Regions from separate parts of the Homo sapiens genome. Here region 1 is linked to region 2. A link means that fine-mapping ties the variant in region 2 to the expression of a gene that starts in the linked region. Tissue or cell type: whole blood. Region 2 holds a variant in brackets; the other region holds the start of a gene. All regions are shown on one strand. Distances are between the middles of the regions.

Region 1 (5,386 bases), 20 kb before region 2:
TCTTTATGCTATATATGCTTCCTATTTAGGTCTAATTTAGGCCTAAACATGGTGTCATTTCATATACTGCAAAGTTGGATGAGCCTAGCAATTCTTTATTAACCACTGAACTAAAAAGACAGAAAACTGGGATATGGCAAGACATCAATCATTAACAAACACTAAAAATGATTTTTCAGCGAATATGTAAAAGGATGTGGGTACCAAAATAGATAATTTCTCTCAAGAAATACATACTTTAATTGCTTTCTTTGCTGATAAATGCAGAACTTAAACGTCAACTCACTCTCGATTTGTTACCACAGAGGTGACTTTCTCATGGTCAAGGTGCCACGATGAGTGCCCCTCAGGCATGTATTTCCCTACCCAGGACTTGCTTTTGATTTATCCATGTCACACTATGCACACATCAAAAACACATCGACCTCTCTGCTGTAAAACAGAACGAAATCATGTCCTTTGCAGCAACATGGATGGAGCTGGAGGACATTATCCTAAGTGAACAAACTCAGAAACAGAAAATCAAATATTGCATGTTCTCATAAGCGGGAGCTAAACAATAGGTATACATGTACATAAGAATGGGAATAACAAGACACTGGGGACTCCAAAAAGGGAGAGGGTGGGAAGGGGGTGAGGGCTGAAAAATTAGCTATTGGGTACAATGTTCAATGTTTGGGGGACAGGTACACCAGAAGCCCAATCCCCACCATTACACAATATACCTATGTAACAAGCAAGCACATGTACCCCCGAATCTAAAATTAAAAAACAATCAAAAAGCACCGACTTCCTTAACTGGCATGGAATAGTTTCGAGAATGGATGTAAACACCGAATTCCTTAATGTAGTTGCAGATTCTGCCAGTTTTGTCTCAACCTCTGGATCGGTTCCTTTTTTTAACTACCTTTAATTCTTAAACAGATTGTTGCTATTGCTATGCTATATACTTATTGTATCACTTATAAATGTATAACCTCTGCAAATTAGTCTCTGAATTGAAAGTATTCATTGGTAAAACGGGTATTTCTTCACCATAGGAATAGTTGGACATGTTTAAATACTTGAGAGCTATTTTTATTACAAGCACACACAGCTTTGTGGTGTTTTTTGTTGAGACAGAGTCTCGCTCTGTTGCCCAGGCTGGAGTGCAGTAGTGCGATCTTGGCTTACTGCAACCTTCGCCTCCTGGGTTCAAGCAATTCTCCTGCCTCAGCCTCCTAAGTAGCCGGGAGTACACACTAATTTTTGTATTTTTAGTAGAGACGGGTTTTTGCCATGTTGGCCAGGCTGGTCTCAAACTCTTGACCTCAGGTGATCCACCCGCCTCAGCTTCCCAAAGTGCTGGGATTAGAGGTGTGAGCCACCGCGCCCGGCCTGTAGTGTGTTTTTGAACGTATATGTGAAGTTGTAGCTTTTTTTTTTTTTTTTTTGAGACGGAGTCTCCCTCTGTCGCCAGGCTGGAGTGCAGTGGCGCGATCTCGGCTCACTGCAACCTCTGACTCCCTGGTTCAAGCTATTCTGCCTCAGCCTCCAGAGTAGCTGAGATTACAGGCGCCCGCCACCGCGCCCGGTTAAACGTTTTGTATTTTTAGTAGAGACGGCGTTTCACCATGTTGGCCAGAATGGTCTCGATCTTCTGACCTCGTGATCCGCCCGCCTTGGCCTTCCAAAGTGCTGGGATTACAGGCCTGAGACACAGCGCCCGACCTAAGCTGTAGTTTTATGATTATGATTTATGGTTGTGAGGCATTGATTTAAGACATTTTAAAGCTTAAGTCGTCAGATCCTAGAAGAAAAAAAAATTCACCAAGACAAGCTAATGCCATTGTCATAAATGGGAGTTTGGAGAAAATTTTATTAATATTTGTTTGGGTGGTTTATGTACAGCGTTGAACTGATTTGAACCCCGACCAAACACTGTATGGAACTAATGTACGGTAGGGGAAATCATTAACTGAAGATGCCTTTTTTGTTGCTATTGTTTAGAACGCAGTTAGAAAATCTTATTTTAGAGGTTTTACCCCGTTGACAAAGCCTCAACTTTTCTTCAAAAGAACTAATTTCCATTTTACCTCCCCTACATTTTGAACAGAATATGGAAGAAGCCAGCGCCCCTTCTCCGCGGGCGCTGCTGCAACCCTGCTCCCGCCGGGGCTTCCGCGCGAAACCGGGAACACTGGAGCAGTACCGACTCCGCTCGCCTAGAACCCGCCCCAGCCGGGCCCACTTCCGCCAGAGCCCTGGCCGCGCCCGCCCCGCCCCACGGACCCGAGATTCGTCGGAATTTTCCCGCGACGCCGCGGGAGCGCGCGGGGCCGCTAGCCAGGCCCCAGAATGCACTGCTGACACGTGTGCGCGCGCGCGGCTCCACTGCCGGGCGACCGCGGGAAAATTCCAAAAAAACTCAAAAAGCCAATACGAGGCAAAGCCAAATTTTCAAGCCACAGATCCCGGGCGGTGGCTTCCTTTCCGCCACTGCCCAAACTGCTGAAGCAGCTCCCGCGAGGACCACCCGGTAAGCGGCAGGCCGCAGAACGCAGCGAGGGCGGAGGCTTCCCTCGGGGGTCTGGCCGACACGTCAGCGGCGAGAGCGGGAGGAGGAGGCGAGGGGCAAGAGGGAAGGCTCGCGAGAGCGGGTGGGCCAGGCGCGCCTTGCGGTGGGCGAGAGGGGTTCCCGCCGGCGCAGGGCTGTGGCTAAGGCTGAGGCGGGAGGCGGGAGGCGGGAGGCGGAAGGTGGCGGGCGGTGCCAGCCCGCGGGGCGGGGCCAGGGCGGGGAAAGCGGGGGCGGGAGCCGGCGCTGGGGTCGCGCGGAAGGGAGCCCCCGGAGAGGCGGGAGCCGGGTGTTGGCGTTTTGGTTCTTTTTGTTCATTGAGCGCAGGCAGCTATGTCTTCTTCAAAGGAGAGGAGCAAAGGTGAATTTCTCTGCCTCGGACTCGTGGGAGCCGTGAAAAGCTCGCCCCTTTGAGCCGGTCGCCCTCTACAGCTGGCCTCGTCCTCCCCGTCCCTCACACCCCTGCCCCCAAACCCCATTCGCCGGGGCGCCAGGAGGGGCGAGGTCCAATTAGAGGAGCCCGGGGCGCGGCTGTTACCCCTCCCGCCCTCCGCCTTTTATTCCCGGAGGGAGGCGGGTTCGCAGAGGCCAGTGTCTTCCCTCCATTCTTTTTGTGGACGCCAGGCCATATCTTCAAAGCCCGTGAGAGATTTTTCAGGTGCTGTTTGTTGGTTTGCTCTTTTTAATTTTTTAGGTGGGTGCGTTTACAACTACGAACCCTCTATGATCTTATGTGTCCAGCGCACCGAATGGGGGAAAAGACTTGGAGTTTTATAACATGGGAAATTGGGTACCAGAATCTTAAGGGAAGAGACCAAGGAGTTTTCTAGCAAAGTCCTGTATGTGCCTGGACTTTTGTTCTAATCTGAAACTTGGAAAACTCCCGGGCATCTGATTTTATTCTAACTTGTGCCCCATTTAATGCATCTAAACTGTGATGTGATTTGACTTAGCATTTATCAAATGAGCAGAGCACTTTTGGGCCACCCAACTTCAGCTCTTTGTGGCTGTCACTCACTGTCAGTGATATGCCCTCAGACAGATCGTTTTCTCCTTACTCCCCTGAAAGGTTGTTACAAACAGTAGAATTCATACCATGTGTTGAGATCATTCATTACCTAAGCTTAGATGGAAAACATGTTCATTGCGACTTTATACATTAAACTTGAATTGATGTTTCAATGTTATGTGCTGTACCAGAGTCACCTGGAAATAAGCACTCATATACATTATTCATATACAAGAAAGGCTGCATCGAAAAAGAATTTGTTTTCCTAGATATATCAGAGATCTTTTTCACCAACCCACTACTCCCAGTAATAGAGCCTGCTTCTTGAGAACTGGACTAATTATACTTTGTATATTATACATTCGAATTTATTTTTGCTTTATTCGGTCATATTTTCTCTTGATTTCTCCAAAAACGTTTACCAAGGCATCAGAAAAGAAAAGCAGGCTCTATATTGGTATTTTTTGTTTTGTCCTCTAATAAAAAGCATTAACTTGATTGATTGGCTGGTTGTGGAAGATGTGTTGCTGCATGTATGTGCAACTGTGCATGTACATTTTAAAACAAATGGTACTTTTAACCAGTTCCATATTTCAGCAGGTAGTTCCAATAACAATTATACAAATTTCGTGTTTATGAGAACCAGCTACAGGGAGGCCAGCCTGGCCAGTAGAAAGTTGGATTGATTATCTGGGCCATGGAGAGAGCCAGAGGAAACTCACATGAGTGGTAGTTCCAAGTTGGTAGTGTTAGGGCCTCAAATCGGGCTGGAAATGAGCACCAAATGATTTTTAAAAGTTTTATTTTAGGCTGGGATATGTGCATTCTCTGTCTTGTTTGTGGATCTTGAGTGATTGACTTAATGTGAAAAAATACATACAGGAGAAGCACCTTGGAAGTTTTGCAATGTTTTAATAAAAATGCAGAAGTGGAGAAGGAAAGGCAATTCAGATAACAGGCAGAGCATGGTGGCTTATGCCTGTAATCCCAGCACTTTGGGAAGCGGAGGCGGAAGGATCACTTGATCCCAGGAGTTCGAGTCCAGCGTGGGCAACAGAGAGAGCCCTGTCTCTACAAAAAGTTAAGAAATTAGCCGGCCATAGTGATGCGGGGCTGTGGTCCCAGTTACTCGGGAGGCTGAGGTGGAGGATCACCTGAGTTCAGGAGGTCGAGGCCACAGTGAACTGTGATTGCGCCACTGCACTCCACACTGGGCAGCAGACTGAGACCGTGTCTGGAAAAATAAAATTGGTAACAATTCAGATTGGCCACCAGAGTTGGACTGGGGGCTAGCAGGCAATGGTTTTACCTCCATTTTGAGATTGGCATCTTCTAACTCAAGTTTAATACGGGACTGAGGGTAAGAGACCTGCATGCCTTTTATGTCAGCATTACATTATCTTGATTATGGCAGCTTTATAGTAAGTTTTGAAATTAAGTAGTGTAAGTTATCCAATGTTTTTCTTCATTTTCAAAATTGTTTTGGCGGTTCAGGGTTCCTTACATTTCCATATAAATTTTAGTATCAGTTTGTTATTTTTTTTCAGAAAACCGTGCTGTGATAGACTTTGTAGGAATTGCATTTAATTTTGCATATCTATTTGGGGGAGAATTGCCATCTCATCATGAACATGGAATCTCTTTCCATTTGTTGAGCGCTTTAATTTCTCTTAGCAGTATTTAGTAATTTTCAGTGTACAAATTTTGCCCTTTTGTAAATTAATTTTGAAGTTTTATTTTTGATGGTATTGTGAATTGAATTATTTTTAAAATTTCATTAAAATTTTTTTTATCGATAAAGTGAAAGCAAGTTTTTTGTTTTT
Region 2 (5,386 bases):
TTATTTTTGGCTTAAATTTTCCTTTTAGTCTTTTACTTGGATCATTCTTTCTTATTTTCTCCTCCATATTTTGGATTCTTCAGACTTCTTCCCTTTTCTTAATCTTACCATTACCAGATTTCCCTTCTGCTTAAATTTCATGATCCAGTTTTTCAGTGGATGGAGATAGAAGGCTGAGGTGAGGAAGGTGGGGGTAAATACGATACTTGCTGAATTTCAAATATAAAACAAGATATTAAGGAACTTATTTCCTTTTTTATTCCCTATATTTGGGAGACCATAGAATTGGCTGGCCGCTAATATCAAGTGGCTTTTGTGTGTAGACCCTTACAAAGAAATGACTGATAAAGTCCCTACTTCTGGGAGTTCTGATAGTAAAAAGTGTGACATCCATGACACATACATTGCCAGTCAATGATGGATAGAAATGGACAGACTTTGAGGAGATGAGTTTTGAGTATACAGAGATACCATTTTGTGTGTGTGTGTGTGCGCATGCATTTGAGACAGGGTCTCACTCTGTCTCCCTGCCTGGAGTGCAGTGATGCGGACATGGCTCACTATGGCCTCGACCTCCCAGGCTTAAACAATTCTCCCACCTCAGCCTCCCGTGTAGCTGGAACCACAGGCATGCGCCACCATGTCTGGCTAATTTTTTGATGTTTTGTAGAGCTGAGGTCTCACTATATTGCCCAGGCTGGTCTCGAACTCCTGGACTCAAGCGATCCTCCTTCCTCAGCCTCCCAAAGTGCTGGAATTACAGGTGTGAGCCACTGCAGGGCCGCAGAGATACAGTATATTTGTGATACCATTAGTAACTTTTATTTGACAGAGGGTTAAGTATTGACTAAGGGATAAAACCTATTCTGGGGCTTAGAAAACAAGGTTTTGCTCCAAGAAGGCGGTTAGATGTGGATAACGGTTTCAGTACTGAATTTGGAACCTTTTTACTAAAATGTAGTCTACATGTGGGTATCTAGCAATAGAGTCACTGTTAGTAAAGAACTATATATGTGACATACAGAGGAACCACATACAGTTTCTTAAAATAATATGTTCTTCATCTTTGAGGAAATCCTAGACAAAGCTGGAAAAATTTCAAGTTTTCTTATTGCTCATTACAAATTATAGGGATTTTGATATTGTGCAGTTAAAAGTTCAGTAGATTTTCAAAACTAGTTATTAATTGACCTCGGTTCTGCACATTTTTGTTGCTTTGCAAGAGTACCCTTAAGGCTCAAATAAAGTTAAAAGTAAGGTAAATGGTGTGTTAGACTAAAACTGTATTTTTTGTCTGTCAACACTTAAATAGAAAAACAAACTAGCTTAAGAACATGACTGCAATTTAGGATCTTAAAACCATATATACCGTAGTATTTTTAAAGCCTGCAACCAAAAAGTAGAATCATTGTGTTTTATAGCACTTTGAAATTCTGTCTGATGTTACTGTATGTCTGTGCTGTCCTGATATGGCTTTTGGATTGCGTTTGTGGTACAAGATTGATTTCTTGTATTTGTATATTACTTGGCTGCACAGATGGTATCCGCTTCAAATCTACTAAATAAAACTAGAACAATGATTTTGCCAGTTGGTTTTGACTGCTTTTATTTATTTTGGATGGCTGTAGTCTTTGTGAAGATGGCAGACTAAACCTGGAAGTGACAGCTAAGAACAGAATGGGTGGGCTACAGGTCTGCTAATTGATCTCAGCAGAACTCATGCTACTTCTCCCTGGGTACAAGACGTTTTCTTCAATTGAATGTTCACAGGCCAGCTGAGCCATCCTTTGCTCCCATATCTCTATTGTCCTTGGCCCAGACCTTTTCTCATCCTCCCTGGGTTATCTCATCCATTTCCATAGCTTTAGTTACTGTCTCTCTGTTGATGTTTCTACATCTATGTCTTCAGCTCAGGCCTGTTTCCTAACCTCTTCCTCACATACCCACTGCCTATTGGACCTCTTCATTTAGATGCCCCAGGTCTCTTGTACTCACCATGCCCTAAGCTGAGCCTATCTTTTTATCCAAGTATGTTCCTACTCCTTTGTTGCCCCTTTCAGTGTATGGTGGCATAACACATCTAGTTCTCTAATCAGAAACCTAAGCAACATCTTTACCTCCTCTCTATTCCTTTTTTTTACTATGTCTGATCTAAATACTAAATACTATGTGTTCTCCCTGATAAGCATCTCTTATCTGGGTGCTTTTCTCTATTCCTTCATGTGACTAGACTAGGCCTCAGTTACTGTAAGATGGTCTTCCATCTTACAGTATGATCTTGTCTCCCCTGGTGGTCCATTTTCTATATTGCTTGTGTGATTTTTCTGAAACAGAAATCTGAGTATATCACTTTAATGCTAAAAATCCTCCAGTGACTTACCTTTGCTCTTAGAATAAAGTCCAGAGTCCTTACTCTGTTTTGTAAAGTCCTTTTAAATCCATCTACTACTTGCTTGAGCAGGGTGACAGTCTTGGTAAAATGTACTTTTATAGCCAGAAGTCCCCCTCACACTTAACATATCATGATGCTTTCCTTTCTTGTGAGAAGCGAGAAATTTTATTGTGACATTTTGTCCATTAGTAAACCACACTCAGATCTGTGTGCCCCTCTTCCAAAAAATACATTATACATATTTCTACAAAGAGAGAAAACATGTAATAGTTGTCAGGTTCTTTTGAGAAATCCTTTTGTAGAAGTTATGCTTGGTGTTGTTTTAATGTTTTTATTACAAAGTAGAGAGCCTGTCTGATGAATCTTACACAAATAAAGTAATGGAGGTAATTAGATA[A/C]CACCACAGCCTTTCCTTTCTCTCCAGAAGAGGTAACAAGAGTCAGCATTCATTTGGAAGCAGTTGCCCAGACATGCCAACAGAAGTTGTGGGCATCTGTATCTCCTTCTAAGAAAGCGGGTTTCCTGAAAACCTTGGGAAAGGAAGGAAGAGAGGGACGGAGAGAGGGAGGGAAGATGCTATGTAGGTGGGCCAGTCACCAGCAGAGGGATAAAAAATGGTGAGATCAAAATATAAAAGCACGAGTAGTGTATTCCTTTGGCTGGCCTCTATCTCTAGATGCCCTAAAATGTTTATCTCCATTATTATAAGTCAGTGTAGATGCCTAGAGAAAGGAGGCATCCCTGATTTGGGCAGGATTCTAAACAATTGCCTTTTGTATTGTTAGTCTACACTTTGCTGAAAGTCCCTCTTGCCTCAGTCTGCTGTTCCCCTGGTGAGCCCCCACATATGGTTCAGTTCTCAGTGTCAGGTCTCTTTTTCTGGAAACTTTCCTCAACACCCCAAATCTGGGTTAAGTGCTCCACTTAGTCTGCTGTACTATGTAACACTTCTCACTCTGCAGTTTTAGTTTGTATTTTAAGTTCAGTGACTATGACTAATGTTATTGTTTGAAATGAAAGAGATTTTAAGAGTTTCTTCAAGAGGATTGACCAGAGTCCTGAGACATTTCTCCATTCCTAAATATATAAAAGCCATGAGTTGCCTTTGAACTTCATTACAATTTTGAAAATTTTTAGACATATCAAAGGTATTCTGTAGATGAGAGCTAGCCCGCTTCAATCCAGTTGTGACTATCTTGAGTGTGAATGTCAGTGTTCATGTTTGATGTTCTTTATTTTGGTGTATACTCTAGGTGTAAAGCCAGCCCAATATTGTCCCAACACATGACTGTGTTTGTTTGGCTAACTGAATACACCTTACCTGCCTTTTCTCCACTTTCTGTCTTCATATCGAAATCCATACACTTGAAATATTCTAATCCATTAGATATATGTAATTTCCTCATTTATGCTTTACTGAAACCCTGTTGGAAAATTCAAATTAATTACCCTTAGATTAAAAAAAAAAGCCTAACAAAGCTCTGTGGATTTGGTATGGGAACATATCAATAAATTTTTTAAAATAAAAACCACATAATTATTTTTAAAGACAACATTTATTTTCAGATCTGTTGAGTTTTTCCACCTATTTCTTCAAAGTTTTCCTTGTCATCCAAAGACATGACATTTGAGGATCTGTCTCTTTACTACTTTTCTATTTTTCAGGCAATGAAACCTCTTGTTACATTTAATTAGTGTGTCTAGGTCATGATCCTTAGTCATTTTAAATTGGAGTGTGATAGAGAGGTTTTAATATATTGTGCAGTAGATCCTTGATATTTTCAGATGTAAAAGGTTTGTTTTGATTTTTAAAATCACTTTATTGAGATATGATTGATATATAAAAAGTTGTACATATTTAATCTATAGAACTCAATGAGTTTGTGGATAAGTATATACCCATGAAGTTATCACCACCATCAAAACTGTAAACATACCCATCACCTCCCAAAGTTCCCCCTGCCTGTTTTGTTATTATTTTTTTGTGTATGGTAAGAACACTTAATATAAGCTCTACTCTTTTAGTACATTTTTACTATACAGCATAATATTGTTAGCCATGGGCACTATGCAATATAGTAGATCTCCAAAATTTACTTCTCTTTTAGGACTGAAACTTTGTACCTTTAACTATCACCTCTCAATTTCCCCTCCTGCCAGCCCCTGGCAACAGCCATTGTACTCTTTTTTTTTTTTTTTTTAATTGATACAGGGTCTCACTGTGTTGCCCAGGCTGGAATGAGTGGCGTGATCATAGCTCACTGTAGCCTCAACCTCCGGGGCTCAAGAGATCCTCCTGCTGTAGCCTCCTAAGTAGCCAGGACTACAGGCATGCGCCATCCTGCCTGGCTAATTTTTTATTTTGTACAGATGGGGTTTTGCTCTGTTGCCTAGGCTGGTCTCAAACTCTGGCCTCAGATGATCCTCTCTTATTGTGGTTTTGATGTGTATTTCCCTGATGATTACTGATGTTGAGCATTGTTTCAAATAACTGCTAGCCATTTGTTTGTCTTCTTTGAAGAAAAGTTGGTTCAGGTCCCTTTGACCATTTAAAAGATCAGGTTTTTTTGTTTTGCTTTGTTTTGTTTTGCTTTGTTTTGTTTTGTTTTGTTTTTTGTTTTGTTTTGGTATTGAGCTGTTTGAGTTCCTTATATAATATATTCTGGATATTAACACCTTCTCAGATGCATAGTTTGCAAATATTTTCTCCCATTCTGTAGGTTGTCTCTTCACGCTGTTATTTTCTTTGCTGTGAAGACATTTTTAGTTTGATGGATTTTTAGTTTGATGTAATTCCATTTGTCTGTTTTTGCTTTTATTGCTTTTGTGGTCTTATCCAAAAAATCTTTGCCCAGAAGACCAGTATTATGAAGCATTTTCTCTATGTTTTCTTCTAGTAGTTTCATAATTTCAGGTATTACATTTAGCCCATTTTGTGTTGATTTTTCTTTTTTTTTAGATCAACATCTCAAACTTTATAATACACTCACATTT

Evidence for each region. PIP is the estimated chance that this variant, and not a neighbour inherited with it, causes the effect.
Region 1: it holds the start of FANCC, and the variant in region 2 is fine-mapped to the expression of FANCC in whole blood (TOPMed, PIP 0.96).

What each region holds. Positions count from the first base shown.
Region 1 is chr9:95,314,658-95,320,043 of GRCh38, reverse strand. It overlaps FANCC (FA complementation group C), which reads left to right and starts at 2,335. Exons shown (of 15, transcript NM_000136.3): 1 at 2,335-2,518. RefSeq lists a silencer at 2,664-2,983.
Region 2 is chr9:95,294,978-95,300,363 of GRCh38, reverse strand. The region is part of intron 1 of FANCC (FA complementation group C); the gene reads left to right. It also overlaps the pseudogene ATMINP1. Among named protein-coding and RNA genes, the nearest start is that of FANCC, 20 kb to the left of the region's middle. The variant A/C (reference allele first, on the strand shown) is at 2,790.